2 separate regions of the Homo sapiens genome follow, and region 2 is linked to region 1. The links come from fine-mapping of genetic effects on gene expression. A gene starts in region 1. The other region holds a variant in brackets. All regions are shown on one strand. Distances are between the middles of the regions.

Region 1 (2,921 bases):
TTGTCATAAATGGCTCCATTTTGAGACATTTCAGATTACAAACCACTGTTATATACCAGCCTAGCATGTAGAAATCACTCAGTACATTTATTGAACACATAATTTAACCATTCATTCACCTGACCAACAGTCATTAAGCACTGACACATTTGTTTTCAACACTCCCTCTCTTCCACGGCAGGCCACTTGGTATGGGAGATAAATATGACAAAGGATCTGCCCTTACGAATCTCATAATCCACTGAAGTGACAACTGTGCAAACAAATAATTAAAGTAAAATTAAGAAGCTGGGCACAGTCTCACATCTGTAATCCCAGCAATTTGGGAGGCGGAGGCGAGGGGATTGCTGAGGCCAGGAGTTCAAGACCAGCTTGGCCAATTTAGTGAGACCCCATCTCCATTAAAAAATGATAAAATAAAATAATTGATTTTGAGAAAGGATGTGGACAAAGTGCAGCACATAGACCAAGGGCCCAGTTCTGTTTGAGGGCATTGGAAGCAACTTCCACAGCAAAGACTTGGGTTGAAATTTACAAAAATAGGAGTTTGCCAGCTTGACAGAGAGGCAGCGGAGGTCAACCAGCAGCACACTTAAGCAGTCATGGAGGCTGACCTAGGCGCTGGACATGGAAAAGTAGCAATCCTGGAGCTTTGTATAGATGTGGGGAGGGAACTTACAGGGGACCAACTAGGCTACTGGGCAATTTCACATTATAAAGAATTTTATATGCTCAAATTAAAGGATTAAAAATTTTCCCCCATGTACATAATAAATTGGCAAAAATGGTTATATTTGAGGGTGACTAAGGAACTCTGGGAAAGAGATCGGCAAACCAGGCACATGTTCTTGACTACTGCAAAAGTACATTTAAAGTAGCCGCGGGGGATACATGTATACTTTTGGGCAGGATTGTGCCGTGGTCCTCTCAGCATGCAGCAAAGTTACTTTGGGGACAGTAGGGAGGTGGGCAGGAGCCAGTGATGACGGAATGGCAATCACATTTGACCTCTGATCTGTTTATTTCCTCCTCCTTGACGTCTCCATATAAATGTTACACGGGCATCCCCACACTCGGATACGCACCCACAGTGGCTGATTCGGGGGTAACCGTGTCATTTGCTTGCAACACTGGCACCTCTGCCCTGCACCCCGGGAGTGAGCAGTGAGTGAGGCTCGGGTCTGGGCGCTGGCTCCGAATCTTCGGGCTGGGAGAGACTCCACCATCTGGGGGCGGCCTGGGGGAGCAGCCTTAGTGTCTTCCTGCTGATGCAATCCGCTAGGTCGCGAGTCTCCGCCGCGAGAGGGCCGGTCTGCAATCCAGCCCGCCACGTGTACTCGCCGCCGCCTCGGGCACTGCCCCAGGTCTTGCTGCAGCCGGGACCGCGCTCTGCAGCCGCAGACCCGGTCCACACGGCCAGGGGCTACGACCCTTGGGATCTGCCCTCCGCTCAGCTCGAGCTTCCCTCGTGGCCGACGGAACAATGAAGGTAACTACTTATGGTTTTGTCCGTGTTTTACAAAAATGTGTGCGTGAATCGAACCGGCGATTTCTCCAAGAAACATAGTTGGCAGGGAGGGGAGGAAGGCGAGACAACCATGGCTTATATCCCCCGCAAACGTCTCAGTATCTTCTTTATCAATCGTAGTTTGCGGGGACCGTGCATTCTGTTCAGATTTCGGTTTAACCTCCACTCGCAGGACGTGCCTTCTCGGACTTTTTCACATTCGCTTTTGGGAACGGAGGTGAAAGTCTGCTACAGCTCCCTCCCCTGCTTGTGAAGTTTGGAAAGGAAGTGAGGGCTTCTCTCAGTTTCTCCTATGCACAGGAGGTGGGGAATTTTGGAGAGGAGGTCTGGGGATGTCCCGGGCTGTAAATGCGCTTTCCTGCAGCGTGTGTTCGTGATGCAGGAGGGAGCGGCTGGAAGAGTTGACCCGGGTGGAGAGGGGAGGGAGAACGATCTTTTCACTGTTAAAAGCAGAAGGCCCCTCTTATTTTGTTTCTTGTGGAAATTAAAGCTTCTAGGAGTTACAAATGATAGACGCCTAAGGGCATTCATTTGTTAAACCAGTGAGCACCCTAATGGCTCTGATCTTGCTAATCAAGGATAATTAGCCTAGCTGCCTATTATTTCTGACTATTTAGGTGTAGGGATGTACACCGTTGAGTGTTTTGTTTTCCTAGTTTCACACACTGGAAAACTGCAATCGCATATAAAACCCGAAGAGCAACTTTTTCCAAGGAAAGTGAAGGATGGGCAGATATTCTTGCCATCTAACATTTTGGAATTGAGATGACCATAATGCAATCTGAACTTCTGGTAGGAATAAAGCCTCGTTTCAGAGTTTCTAAGGAGGGAGATGAAGCGTGGTTCTCAACTGCTCTTATCTACAACCCATCCCAGACCATAGTTTCACTTAGAAGAAATAATATGTAAATAGCGCCTTTGTTGCCAAACAAAAACTTTCACTACAATTAAACAGTAACCGAGTGGAAACTATGCGTTTTTGTATTCAACAGAGATCACACAACTTTTCTTCTATAGTTAGAGGTTCTATTTCTGGCTTCCTCATGCTTGTTTCATTTCAGATGAAAAACACACTTTAGTTGATTATAGCTTTAGTAAGTAAAAGGAGAAAACTAAGAATGAACAGTCTTGCTTTTCCAGCTTTTTCCTGTCCATGTGCAGTTGTGGTTAATTACGCGTTTTTGTAGGTCCAAAAACCCCTGTCCCTTCCACAAGATACTTTTATAACATGGGGAACTAGGTAAGATATCTACAAGTAGTCTCTTTTCTGTTTCCTGATATTTCCTAAGATTAAGAAAGAAATGATTGTATTCTAGGTATGATCGAAGAAGTATGGAAGGTTCCATTAAGTTAGTTTTATCACAATATTTCAAACATCTTTCCACTTATCTCT
Region 2 (2,921 bases), 50 kb after region 1:
GGGTTATCACCATGTTAGCCAGGCTGGTCTCGAACTCCTGGCCTCATGCAATCCACCTCCCAAAGTGCTGGGATTGCAGGCGTGAGCCACCAAGCCTAGCCTGAAGAATTCTTTGCAAAGAAAAATATCAACTCAAATTTAAATAATCTTTTCCTTTCTTTTTCTTTTTTTTGAGACAGAGTCTTGTTCTGTTGCCCAGACTGAAGTGCAGTGGCACCATCAATTAGGTATCACTTTCAGCCTTGATCTCTCAGACTCAAGTGATCCTCTTAGCCTCTCAAGTACCTGAGACTATCGGCTTGCATGCCATCAGGCCCAACTAATTTCGTCATTTTTTGTAGAGATGGGATCTCCCTGTGTTGCCCAGACTGATCTCCAACTCCTGGGCTTGTGCAACCCTCCCACCTCGGCCTCCCAAAATGCTGGGTCACAGGCATAAGCCACAATGCCTGGCCATAAATAATCTTTTTTATTTGTTAATTTAGATTTCTGTATATTAGGTTTTATTTAGGGGAATTGCCTGTTTACACTCATGTATTTACACATCAAAACATGAGTTATGGTGGATGTATTCACAGCACATATGTAATAAGGCATGTGTAAAAATGATATTGATAATTTAGGGAATAAAAATGGTAGATTTTATAGACCATCTTTGTTTTTGATATACTTTTCTCTGTCTCAAAAAACAAAAACAAAAACAAACAAACAAACAAAATATATATATATAGCCTACATTGTTGTTAACTATAATCACCCTACTCTGCTATGAACAGTAGACTTTATCGCTTCTATCTAACTGTATGTTTGTACTCATTAACCAACCTCTCTTCCTCCACCTACACCCTTCCCACCCCCTGCCATCTTCTGATATCTATCATTCTATGAGTACTCTCTTCCTCCATGAGATCAACTTTTTTTTTTAGCTCTCACGTATGAGTGAGAACATGCAATATTTGTTTTTCTGGGTTTTTTTTTTTTTCTGTGTTTGGCTTATTTCGCTTACCATAATGACTTCCAGTTCCATCCATGTTGCTACAAATGACACGATTTTACTCTTTTTTAATGGCTGAGTAGTATTCCATTGTGTATATGCACCACATTTTATTTGTTCATTGATGGACACTTAGGTGATTCCATGTCTTGACTATTGTGAATAGTGCTGTAATAAACATGGGACTGCAGATATCCCTTTGATATACTGATTTCCTTTCCTTTGGAAAATACCCAGTAGTAGGATTGTTGGTTTATATGGTCATTCTACTTTTAGTTTTTTTTTT[G/TG]GAAAGCTTCATACCATTTTCCACAGTAGATAAACTAATTTACATTCTTACCAACAGTGTATAAGCGTTCTCTTTTCTCTGTATCCTCATCAGCATCTGTTATTTTTTGTCTTTCTAATAATAACCATTCTAACTGTGGTTGCTTTTGACATATTTCTCTACCTTTTTGTTAATCTACATCATTTATAACATTTCATATGGCCTTTTGGGTCTCTCTTGGGTAGTTTTCGTATTTCTTCTCCCCTCCCCATTTATGATGCAGTCATATTACATGAGGATGCAGTTTTGCAGCAGGGCCTAGCAATGAGATACGTTGTTACACATCCTGGCGAATCTTTCTGTGGACTCTAGGATCCTCTTCATTTGCAAGAGGTCAGCCATCTATTTCTTCCAATTCCTCCAGCTTCACATATCTCCACAGAATGCAACACTGCAAATCTGCAGTTCTCTTCATGATCCTCTTTATTAGATTTTAAAAGAGTATCTCCAAAAGATGAACATAGTGCCTAAGGCTTTCCAAATGGAGTAAGAATAATGCACAAGAACCTAGAATAAAGTTATTAAATGTCTGATACAGTTGTAATACAGACTTGATTTTTGAAAAATGTGGCCAATGAAGAGAAGAGCAAATGTGCTATACGATGGTGAGCAAAAGGTGTTGACAGGCCTGGCATGGTGACTCACCCCTGTAATCCCAGCACTTTGGGAGGCTGAGGTGGGTGGATCATTTGAGGTCAGGAGTTTGAGACTAGCCTGGCCAACATGGTGAAACCCTGTTTGTATTAAAAATACAAAAATTAGCCAGGTGCGATGACACATGCCTGTAATCCCAGCTACCTGGGAGGCTGAGGCTTGAGACTTGCTTGAACCGGGGAGGCGGAGGTTGCAGCGAGCCGAGATTGTGCCACTGCACTCCAGCCTGGGCAACAGAGCAAAAAAAAAAAAAAAAAAAAAAAAAAGTGTTGACTGAACCCTGGCTGAAACAGTTTTCAGGTGCTTTCAACAAATTTACACTTCCCTGCCCTGAGCCTCCCTATTTCAGAACAAATGATTACCCAACTGCAAACTTTGAATTAGGAAGTTGTTTTTAATATGCCCTGTTTTTCTCAATATTTCTTGCCATTTCACAATCAGTTATTGTGGCATTCCAATTCTTCCACAAACATATGATGTGAAACATCCTGACTTCGATGTCATCAGGGAATGTGGAGCATTGGAAAGAGACAGATTAATTATGCAGAAGAAAGTATCATTTGACAAAATATTATTTTTATTTATCTTTGGAAAGGAAATCTAGAAAAAGAAAATACTTTTTAAAGAACACTGATAAAAATTGTTTATAAAATTTGTTTCCTTTAGGAAACAAATCGTTCCCTTAAAACTACATTTCATATCTGCCCCAAACGAGTCACATGTCTTCAGCTAATATTGCTTGTTTACGTTTGAACTTTATTCAATTCTATCACCTAGTAATTTAGTATTCTTAGGTAATTTCTCTTTGAGCTCAGGTTAAAAGTTGTTATTTTTAGTTTTCAGAGTTGCAGAATTTTTTTTTCAAGTAGAGAAAAGTTCATGATGAGATTCTGAAGCCACCTAATCGTATATTACTTTGAAAAACTGGATATATGCCGGGCGCGGTAG

What was found. PIP is the estimated chance that this variant, and not a neighbour inherited with it, causes the effect.
Region 2: its variant is fine-mapped to the expression of BCAT1 in whole blood (INTERVAL, PIP above 0.99).

Annotation. Positions count from the first base shown.
Region 1 is chr12:24,947,495-24,950,415 of GRCh38, reverse strand. BCAT1 (branched chain amino acid transaminase 1) reads left to right here and starts at 1,315. Exons shown (of 11, transcript NM_005504.7): 1 at 1,315-1,489. The coding sequence starts at 1,484. BCAT1-DT (BCAT1 divergent transcript) reads right to left here and starts at 1,253. Exons shown (of 3, transcript NR_199054.1): 1 at 1,086-1,253. RefSeq lists enhancers at 862-951, 1,072-1,421.
Region 2 is chr12:24,897,839-24,900,759 of GRCh38, reverse strand. The region is part of intron 2 of BCAT1 (branched chain amino acid transaminase 1); the gene reads left to right. Among named protein-coding and RNA genes, the nearest start is that of BCAT1, 50 kb to the left of the region's middle. The variant G/TG (reference allele first, on the strand shown) is at 1,281.